Linked DNA regions of Homo sapiens. The protein of the gene in region 3 purifies or fractionates together with the protein of the main gene of each other region. This does not show direct contact. Each region holds a gene or a part of one and is shown on either strand. Other genes may lie near its edges. The genes, in order: STK39, ACRBP and ATL2.

What was found.
Region 1: the proteins of ATL2 (region 3) and STK39 purify together in Homo sapiens (affinity purification with mass spectrometry; one large-scale study listed by BioGRID and IntAct). This does not show direct contact.
Region 2: the proteins of ATL2 (region 3) and ACRBP purify together in Homo sapiens (affinity purification with mass spectrometry, with the first as the bait; one large-scale study listed by BioGRID). This does not show direct contact.

Annotation. Positions count from the first base shown.
Region 1 is NC_000002.12:168,139,460-168,143,109, forward strand, and holds part of STK39 (STE20/SPS1-related proline-alanine-rich protein kinase), read right to left. Parts: intron 1,300-3,650; coding exon 1,190-1,299; intron 932-1,189; coding exon 830-931; intron 1-829. UniProt on the Homo sapiens protein: Effector serine/threonine-protein kinase component of the WNK-SPAK/OSR1 kinase cascade, which is involved in various processes, such as ion transport, response to hypertonic stress and blood pressure.
Region 2 is NC_000012.12:6,637,469-6,641,047, forward strand, and holds the end of ACRBP (acrosin-binding protein precursor), read right to left. Parts: intron 3,055-3,579; coding exon 2,875-3,054; intron 2,760-2,874; coding exon 2,592-2,759; intron 1,570-2,591; coding exon 1,486-1,569; intron 937-1,485; coding exon 814-936; 3' UTR 607-813; downstream 1-606.
Region 3 is NC_000002.12:38,375,163-38,378,912, reverse strand, and holds the start of ATL2 (atlastin-2), read left to right. Parts: upstream 1-1,639; 5' UTR 1,640-1,652; coding exon 1,653-1,770; intron 1,771-2,382; exon of another isoform or gene 2,383-2,733; coding exon of another isoform or gene 2,734-2,797; intron 2,798-3,750. UniProt on the Homo sapiens protein: Atlastin-2 (ATL2) is a membrane-anchored GTPase that mediates the GTP-dependent fusion of endoplasmic reticulum (ER) membranes, maintaining the continuous ER network. It facilitates the formation of three-way junctions where ER tubules intersect.

The DNA.
Region 1 (3,650 bases), about 130 Mb from region 3:
GAGATTGTCTGGTTGATGAGATTACGGATGATTGTTTTTCTTCTTTAGTCTGAGTTGCACATCCAAACTTTCTACAATATGAGTATACTACTTCTTTTAATCAGTAAAACTCACTTTTTATTCTTGGGTTTTTAAAATAAATCCTCCCAAATTTTTCCAGTAACCATGAAACAATCATAGACCATACTCTATGTAAAATAGCATTATAATTTCACTAAACTATTTCAGCCTCAAAACAAAATCCAGTTGGGTAAATAAGCCCTGATACCACTATCTCAGAACTAAGAGAAATAATGAGGTATAAACCAGTTAAAAGAAGAGCAGAAACGTGAAAATAGCATCCTAAAAACACTGTGGCTCACTTATATCAGATCAGTTGCCAACATTACACTATAAGAGCAGGGGTAAAAATGTTGTAGTCCACTTAAAAAGAAAGAAAAAAAAAAGCTCTGAAAATCTGGGAAACCCATTTGCAGAGATGACATCACTATAATCTATTTTGAGATATTCTCTGGGAACCTGGCGTTGTTCTGCTATCAAAAGAGTAATGACCAGCATTTGTCATAGCTATCAACCTCCATCAACCAATCTGATAACATTATTTTCTTAACTCTGTGCTGAGACTATAAAGCAAGCTTCAAAGCTGGGAATTATGCTACTTTTGTCCTATTCTGTCCACTGAGAAAATCAGACAATGTTCAACTTGGCTGCGTTCCTCCATTAATTCTCCTCGGGTCTAAGAGAAGAATGAAGATGTTGAAGAGAATTAGAAAACAGATTCCGTCCAATCACATTTCAACCCCGATGTAGTATTTCCAATTGTAATTACTTTCATGGGAGGATATTTGTGATAAGGCGCTGCTCCTGTTGCTAATTCAATGGCAGTTATTCCAAAACTCCACATGTCAGCCTTGAAGTCATAGCCTCTCACCTAAGAAAGAAAGCAGGAAAAAAACACAATCATACAGCAGGCATGTTACACATCATCAAGTCCATGTCATGTCAGAAATCCACAGCTGTTGATGTATAACTTTCACGTTAGTTTGCTAATTAGCTAGCAATTGAGAATTAAATCTTAGTTACATTATGCATTCTACTAAAATGCTAGATACAAATGAAATGTTAGCATATTAATGATCTGTACGATTGTACTATGTCCATCAAAAAGTCACTTTTTTTGTTTTTTTACCTGTTCCATGACTTCAGGAGCCATCCAACATGGGGTGCCAACGAATGTTTTTCTTACTTTATTTCGGGTAACATCACCCCCTGTTGCTAGGAACGCACTTACCCCAAAATCTGAAAGGGAAAAAAAAATCACCTTTATTTTATGTAAGACATTATTGCTTATAAATTGTGATTTTTTGAGCATGTCTCTTCTTTGTGAGCTTTACAGTGGTGATGAACTATTCCAAACATGTCTACGGTGCTCTCTCAGGAAAAAAAAGGAAGACCTGCCCTCTGCTATCCCCTACACCTTGGAGAATACCATCGCTGGTAATGGGCCACAAGCCTGCCGGTCCAAAAGCTTAGCATACCAAATTAAATATAAAGGGTGTTAGCTTTTAGCTGAGGTATATAAAGATAAGATATATAAAGCCAACATGCCCGAGTATGTCCATATGCAAAAAAGCTTAGTCAGCAAAGACTGATTTTCTGGACAATTTTCATAAGTACAGAGGCAATGGATTGTACAAGTAAATAATATTTTTCTTAACTTTAACTCATTATATATAGAAGTTAATTTTATAAGAAGATGAATTAATTAGGCATACTGTACAGATTGAGCATCCGGAAATGCTTGCGACCAGAAATGTTTTAGATTTTGGATTTTTTCTCATTTTAAAATACTTGCATTATATACTAAACTAGTTAAGTACCCCTCATTCGAAAACCAGAAATCTGAAATGTACCCGTGAACATTTCCTTTGAATGTCACCTCACATTCAAAAAGTTTCAGAATTTGGAACATTTGAGATTTCACATATTCTGATTTAGGGATACTCAACCTATATATACATACAGGCACATGTGTAAAAATTCTATTTGTATGTACAGTACAGAAGGGAATGCCTGGCAATTATTAACGTACTATTCTTGCTTTCATTTTTACACAGTGGTTAAAAGTAGTTGATAAGTTAAAGTACCAATTACTCAAGACTAGTGTACCTATCAATGATAGCCAGGTCAAGGACTACTTGATAGCGAGCTGGTGGGTAGTAATAAAAACAGGTAGGCAACACATCAAAACACCACAGCGCAATGTGCAGTCTGAGCCCCTGCAAATCGCTCTCATACGCTTTTCCTTTGCGAGTCCCCCTTGTTGGCTGTCAGGGTGACAGCAATTACCAAAAAACACCCTCAAGTACAAACCAAGGTCAAAATGTATTAGCATTTGCTGTAGGCCTATAAGGTTAGTTTATGCAATTGTAACTTAATAACATTGTAACTGGTTTCCTGAGTAGAAATACATTGAATGTTGCATTTTATTTATATTTAAATTTACTCATACTCCCAACAGGATTTCAACTACAAATAAAAGGAATGAAAATTGACAAATGGAGTCTTTGTTCCAACTGCTACTCTCATGTTCATATTGAATAAAAGTATATATGTTTAAACTGCTAAATAACTTAATATGCATATATGTTTCCAACTCTAAAGCCCTTTTAATTCTTATACTGCAGCCAGAAAACTGAAGTCTTGTGAAAAGAAATCTCTGGAACCAGTCAGTCTCCTGTGGGTGGGAGAAGATACAATTCATTCTCTTAGAGAAGAGTTAGGTGAATTAAAATATTTGTAAGCATCTACTATATCTGCTGGAAAAAATATATATGATAAAACTTTGAAAGCTACTAATTTCAACTTAATTTATATTTCTAAAAAGAAGTTCAACGATGAATCCAACATTTCATTTTTATTAAAATGATTTTATAATATAATATGAAATAAATACATATCATCTATAAATTAAGGATACAGGTAAAAGCTGCTTTAAGGAAAAATTGATTATTTTAAATGCAATTGAAGCAACTCTGCACCCTAAAGTCTCTTCCTAAAAGACATAATCCAGGTAAAAATCCATAGTTAACATTAGATATATTTCCACTTCCTTAAAAATACTACCTGCTTACATTACACATTTTAAAAAGTTAGAAAACAGCCGAAAAAGATGTATAGTAGCCATTTATTATTGACAATACCCTTTCAATATATCTGTAATGATACATACATTCAGAGCCTCCACTTTGAACACTCACTTTAAAGTCATAAACAGATGGCTAAATGTCTTTAAAACTCAGAACAAAAATTTCAGGAGCAGAAAACAACAATCCTAATATCTACTCCCTCTATGACTACAGAAGAAATATACAATTTGCTCCTATGTACGGCTGATGTGTATACAGATTATATGTACTCAGTAACAGAACATTTTGAGCAAAGTACATAGTGTGCTTATGTTATATACACAAAAAATTGGTATATTATATTGAGATAGCTTGCATATGACAGTTAGAACAAGGTGGCAGAACTGTAACAGTGAAAAGCTGTCCTTGTTTCCTAAGGGGTACATCTATACAGCCAAAGGGAATGCAGCCAGATTCACTTGGGTACAAAACCACAGACATTTCTCTAGAAACACAGAATCA
Region 2 (3,579 bases), on a different chromosome or scaffold from region 3:
CAGGCTTAGTGGCACATTCCTGTGGTCACAGGGACCTGAGAGGCTGAGGTAGGAGTGTGGCTGGAGCCCAGGAGGTCAAGACTGCAGTGGGTGGTGATCATGCCACTGCACTCCAGCCTGGGTGACAGAGCGAGACCCTGTCTCAAACACAAAACAACAACAACAAAAACAACCCCAAGGTTTCCTGATCTAGGCTATAGTTCCTGGTTTTTCCCTTCCTGATTAAGTGCAAGGTGCACACTCCCTATACCCCAGGATTGGTCCCTTTGGAAAAGATCTCATCAGGCTTTGGCCTTTATCCTACAGAGGAACAATACTACACTCGCATCTGACATCACGGGGCTTAGGGCTTCAGAAATGAAGACAGGTGCCCACATGCCCACATCATCCCTAGGGCCCCAGCCTTCTTGGCCTTCCTCAGTTCACCTCCCTGGGTTCTCAGGTCTTCTGCTTCTCCTGGCAGATGGCTGCTTCCCTGAGCACCATTCCCATGAGATTCTCTCACCGGCAGGTGGATCCATAAAACCAGGGGTTGGGGACTGACTGCCACGGGGCAGGGTAGCAGTGCTGAGGATGGGGATCATAACCAGAACAGGCCACACAGGCTGAAGATCAACATTTTATGTAAAGTCATCTTTTAAGGAGGGCGCAGCTCCCACCGTGGCCCTCTCTGGGACTGTTGCTCCAACCCAAGGAAATGTGAGTAGGGGCCGAGTAACAGACCCAGAAGGGGCAGCCTGAAAGCAATGGGGTCTCAAAACAATAGAGAACGTGGGCAGGTTGGGCTGGGGTGTGGGCAGAATAGACGCCAGCTCATCCGAACTGGCCTAGAGTCAAGGTGCTGAACTCCTGGCTCCATCGAAGCACAACGTCCTCACTTTTGCCAGGGCTCAGCGCACTGTAAGTCTCATTCTGCAGACATCTCATGCGGGACACCTACACAGAGATTCAGTGCAGACGGTCTGTATCACAGAGCCAGGTGCCAGGAGTGGGGAGGAGGGGAGGTGTCAGAAGCCCAAAAGAACGAGAGGTGGGCAGGCATGGGCACAGGGCAGTAGAGGGAAGGAGGAAACTCAAATGTGGGTTTTTAAAGCCAGAGGAGACATCAAGCAGCCCAACCCCTTTCATGCAGAAACAGGCGGCTGAGGCTCAGAGGGGGAAGTGCCTCATCCCAGGCTACTTGGTGAGTAAGAAGAGGAGACAGACCGAGACCTCAACGTCCAAGTCCTGGCCCAGCCAAGGGTTCTTCCTGTGGTGCTCTTAGGACCCTCCTCTGTTATCCACCAGCTGCCTAGGAGGGCCTTGCTTCCGCCAGGACTGGAGGAATGGAGGAGAGCCTGCTGGTGGAGGCCTCTGCCCCAGAGATGCAAGCAGGAACCGCTTTCCACATCCTAGCTGCTCGCAGAGGGGGCCTCAGAATAGACCAGTTATGGTGACTGATTGAGGGGGTGCTGGGAGAAGGAGGGGCAGGGCAGGGGTGCTCACCTTCCGATTGCGGTTTCTCATCAGACACTGCTGGCTTTTGAAGGAACAGTAGTTTGGGTACTGGATATAGTCTGTGTCACAAATCTAAGCCAAGAGCCAGAGAGAGGGAAGAGGGTATCAGAAGCCTCACCAGGCAGCAGCACTCCAGGGAATATCTGCTAGGGCAGAGCCAGGGGCAGGGTGTGGCCCAAGACCCAGGTCTTCCACACACAGGCGGCCCCTCACTCCGCTTTCCCTCTGCCTTTCCCCTGCCGCTCTGTCACAGGTTGCTGGGAAGAAGCCAGGAGCCTGGGAGAGTATGAGGCTGCCAGTCAGCTTACTGGGAAAGTGGCTGAGGAAGCGGGAATGGGGCAGGACGGGGTAGATAAGGGTCCAGAACATGGGACAGGGACCCGATTAGTGGCCTGATGTCAAGGATTTTTCTGGTAATGGTAGATAAGGGAAGGGGGAAGTGAGTCACTGCCTTCTTTGGACCTCGCCTCCCCATTCCAGATCAAGGGGCCCAGGGACAAGAGCTGGACATGGGCCCCCCAGCTCAGCTACCAGCCCTTGCTTCAGCTGCCCTTACTTTTCCTTGCCTTGGTTTTCCCTGCTAACTACAGGAGGAGAGGCCTGGATCTAAAACAACAGGTCATTCCACAGGGGAGGTAACTCAGGGGAACGGGGAGCCAAGTTGATTTAATTGAGCAGGGAAGGCACTGGAAGAGCTGGGAAGCCCGTCAGGCTAAGGCCGGGAAGTCCTGGATCACAGGGTTGGGCAGTGGTGCACGTGTCACTCAGTCATTTCTTGTAGAGATGACTCTTTGATTGAGTAGGAAGTGACTTGATCACAGCCACCCAGCAAGTAACTGGCAGAGTTGGGACCAGAACCTCTAGCTCCTGTTTTCTCAGCCCTCTGGGTCCCCACTCCTTTGCCTGCTCTATTGGTGGAGGGTGGGGTGGGGTGCAATGGTCTCTTGGAGAGAGGCAGGAGATTCAGTGAGGACGGGTTCTCAGAAGCCAGGGGCCCAAGCCCCCTTCCACAAACTAGCGCTACTCACAGCAAGTAACTGGAAGGAATGGGGTGAGGGTAGGGATGGGGCTGAGCTTTGGGGAAAGGTTCTAACCTTGGTAGGGAAATCCCCATCCTGGAAGCTAAGGAACTCAGTCTGGAGCCACCCAGAGACTCGGACATCTTCACAGCCTTTCGTGGCAAGCCGGGCACACCAGAAGTCCATGTGGAGCCCACCGTACAAATCCAGCCCGTAAAAGCGGCCTGATTCTGGGGACCCTACCTGTGGCACAGGAGATAGGGGAGAGGTGCGTGCCCCTCCCCACCTGCTGGCCACCACCACCCCACCCCTGCCACCCAGTTCTGCCTTTCCCACTGCGGGCTGCCGGGCTAGATACCTGGTTGCCGATGGACAGGCTCTGGGAGGCAAGCAAGGGGCTGACAAAGGGAGTCTTGTGGGAGGTGTCGCATTGTTGCCGCTGCAGGCTGGCCTCTGAGTGGCACTGCTCCAGCTTCAAGGAGCAGAAGTCACAGAGGGCACAGGTAGACATGTGTCGCCGCCCAAGGCTGTCACAGACCTGGGGCAGGGGAATGGGTGAGGCTGAAGCTGAGAGTCAGCGGCCTGCCTTCTCCCATGCCTCAGCCCTCCAGGGTGGGCCCTGCAGAATGTCTTTGCATTTAGCCTCTTCCAAAAGCTTCTCTGGGTTTTCTACTTGGCCTCCTCCCCAAGGGTTCCTCAAGGACCTTGCCTCAGCTATTTCTTCACCCTCTTCCTGGATGATTTATCTACTCCTAGGTAATCATCTATCTGCGAGTGACACCCAAATCTTTATCACCAGCTCTGATCTCTCTCTTGGGCTCCAAATCCTCATTGCCAAGTGCCTGACAGATGTCTGTGATTGGGTGATCTTACAGATACCCCAACTTAGCCTATCTGAAAAGAACTCATAACCCTCCCCTGCCACCTCTGCTAATGATAATGCTAATATTTACAAAGAGGTGACCCAGTGCCAGCACTATGGCTACACATGCTCTCATTTCATTTAGTTTTCACGACAACCCTATAACAGCAGAGATACTAATATTACTCTCATTTACTGACA
Region 3 (3,750 bases):
CTCGTGAAGATTTTTTTGCCCTTCTTCTCCTCCTCCTCCTCCTTCTTCTGCTTCTGCTTCTTCTTTTTCTTCCTTTTCAATACTACGTTTTTCAGGCCAATGATAAAACAGAAAATGTCTTGACAAAGTGAGCTCTCCAAATCATATATCACAAGGACGTAAGAGGAATATCACTTAACAAGTTGATAAAGATCCTGCCATCAATATGAACGAGGGGGAAGGGTAACTGTACTTTAGATTGTGGAGGTGGTTCAAGTCCCAGAACTAGAATCTTAGTAACTCAAAGAATATTGCCAAGAACACGTATATAGTTATTCTCCTAGATTTATGTGACAATGATGACAAACTCCATATTCTGTTGAAATATATTTGGATGGGCCGGGCGCAGTGGCTCACGCCTGTAATCCCAGCACTTTGGGAGGCTGAGGCGGGTGGATCACGAGGTCAGTAGCTCAAGACCAGCCTGGCCAAGATGGTGAAATCCCGTGTCTATAAAAATACAAAAATTAGCAGGGTGTGGTGGCGGGGGACTGTAATCCCAGCTACTCCGGAGGCTGAGGCAGAGAATTGCTTGAACCCGGGAGGCGTGAGCCACCATGCCCTACCTAGAATGGTATTTTGAAAGCTTTAATAACACCAGTGCTTTTCTAGAGATTGTGCATGCTGTGAATTTTAGACTTATGAAAAGACCTGGACAAAACAGCTGTTTGTACACCCGGACATCTGTTTTTACTGGAGAAGAGGAATTTCTAATGCAGCTGGCAGTATGGTAAAAATCCAAAGGGATCATGTTTCACAGACGCCTCCACGGGCTGACTTGTAATTTAAAAAGTGACCTGAACTTTCTACTGGATGTCACTGGATCCCCAGAAGAAGGTTCATCACAATTAGGTAAGAACCTGCCACGATTCATTTTCCGATTAGAGTGCTTTCTGGCATGCCTCTGCAAGGTGCTAGGAGCACAGGGCCAGGGTATACACAGTTGAGAAGATGGGGGAAGGTCTCATAAGTAGATGGGGAGCGAATGCAAACAAACCTTAGGATGGTGGGGGGGAGGGGAAGCAACAGTAGGGACTTGGGTGAGGAAAGAAAAGATCAAGAGGAAAAGCAGGGCACTGGCAACAACTTGGGGGGTGGATGGGGAGAGAGGAGGGGAATGGCTGTGATGAGGAGGGGGCGATGAAAAGGAGAGAAGGGGTGCGAAAGCCACCTCACGTGCAGGACGCACGAATCAACGATTAGAGATGTAAAGCGAATTGGGAGGGAGGGACTTAGTTCTCTGGAGCTCCCTTCTGCGTTTGCAGAGCCTGGCCCAGCGCTAAGGGGGTGTGGTGCTGAGCTCAGGGAGGTGGGGGTGTGAGACGGCGGCGGCAGGGACACCCCCGCCCCAGTCCAACCAGAAACTTGGAGCCGGGGAGACGGATCTGCAGGCGGGCAGGGCGAGGGCGGAGCGAGCGAGCGATGGGCGGGGCGGGGGCGGAGGGAGGGCGAGGAGATACAGGCGGAGGGCGAGGAGATACAGGCGGAGGGCGAGGAGATACAGGCGGAGAGCGGCGCTAGGACCCGCCGGCCACCCCGCCGGCTCCCGGGAGGTTGATAAAGCGGCGGCGGCGTTTGACGTCAGTGGGGAGTTAATTTTAAATCGGTACAAGATGGCGGAGGGGGACGAGGCAGCGCGAGGGCAGCAACCGCACCAGGGGCTGTGGCGCCGGCGACGGACCAGCGACCCAAGCGCCGCGGTTAACCACGTCTCGTCCACGACCTCCCTAGGTACGGGCCAGCGAGGCAGAGGCCGCGGGGCCCTGATGGGGAGAGACGCTCGCTGCTCGGGCTCGCGGGCACCGGCCGCAGGCGGCGGGGTCGGAGTCCGCGGCTGGTTCAGGTCTCCTCCCGCCGCCGCGCCTGCCCGCCGGGCCTAGCCTCAGCCGCGCCCCGCGCTCCCGCAGCGCGCGGCCTGAAAGGGCGGCTCGTGGGCCGCGGCTCCAGTAGCTGCTGGGAGAACCAGTGGCGCGCGCGTCTGCGACCGGCCCGGCCCCCTGCCCGCCAGCCCGCCGCGTGGCTGCCGCCGTGTCCGCCCCGACCTTAGGGGGCGGCCTTGAGCCGTGGCCGCCTGCCCGGGGCGCGGGGAGGTCGGCTGCGGCTCCGCTCCGTCCGGCGAGCTCCGGACGCGGCGGGGCGACCCGTTAGCTGGTGGGCGTTCGCTGTCCCTTACGCGGACAGGGAGGAAGGGGTGGCCAGGGCATGATGGGCCCCGCGGAGGAGGAGGTCGCGCGGGGAGCAGACACCTTGCTGCCGGGTCCGAAAGCTCCTTAGACACCCTTCCTGGAGGGAACCGCAGTCCGCAGGCCAGGGCTCTGTCCCCGGGCTCGCGTTTCGGGGCTCCTCGGCTCCCGAACCCATTCGCGCGGGTTGTGCGTGGCTAGGGTGCAAGTCTAGATTTTCGTGTCAAACTGGGGTTATGAGCCGTTTACGAGTCACTTGGACGATAGTAAGGCCTGATCACTCTGAAAGTGTCTGTAGTGTGAAGTCACCTGATCCTTGGCTCCCTGGTTTTGCTGAATGTGAGCTCCTACTGTACGTGTACCAGGAGCGCCCCTGCCCCCTCGAAGACGCAGTTGCGTTGGCAGCGCAGTGTATCCCTCTCACTCATAACACCCCTATTTATAGGAGTTTAGCGTTTGATCTCTCACTGTGGTGCGAATTGATCGCATGAAATCCTGATTGAAAATTTTGATGGTACTTAAGAAAGGCATAAAGTTTTTTCAAAGGCTTATAAATAGTAAAAGCCTACGATTTGGTAAGTACGGCCAAGATAAGAGTTTATTATTAAATACAGATACGAGCTCGTGTCTTAAGATTTCTTTTTTTACGGTGTGTAAAGGTTTTGCTGGATAAAATGTAAAGCATTTTGGTATGATGTTAACCACAAGGACTCACTTTAATAGGAAAGTTTATTTGAAATATACTTCATCATTCCTGGTAGTTCTTGGCGCATGTCAGAGGTGATGACAGACTGGAGTTTTGCTAAGGGAAGAAGAAAAGGAAATAAAGCTTATTTTATTATTGTCTGCCAACCAAAACGCTTGACTGTTTGTACAGTGGTAGCACTCTGTAGAATAAAAAACTACCAAAGAAGCAGCTTCGCCTTAGATGTGTGCTGGTTGGATTTCTTAAGTAATTAATTGTTTTGGAATGCGGATGGATTAATTTCGCTCTTTTGGTTGGACCCTAGGGGAAGAAGTGTGTGTTCTTTTCTTTCTTTCTCTTTCTTTCTTTCCTTTTTTTGAGGTAAGAGTTTTAGATGCAGTTTCAAAATATTCTATGTATTTACCTTATTAGAAGAAACATAAATTTATACTTCAGTTATGGTTGTGAACGTTGTTGTGCTGTGGTATCTTGAGAAGAGATGATACTCTTCAGATTGTTGTTGAAATAGGGCCCACCATTTATTATTTAATAAATGCTTTTGTCTGCTACTCATAGGTTTTTGTCCTTTGTTTTTTAGGACGGATCAGCAAGACCTTCACTTGATAGCCATTCCTAGCAAATGATTGCCTAAAACAGTCCCTGTACCTGCTAATTTGCTCCGAGTCACTCATTAATGAGTTAAAAACTAAATGAGCTTGGTAGGATTTGTGTTTAAAGTGAGAAGAAACAGACTGAATGAAAAGGACTCATCTATTTTTGACTGTGTAGAAACTCTTTGTCTCCCTCTGCTTCCTGGAGAAATAGCTTCAAAAACCAAGTTGG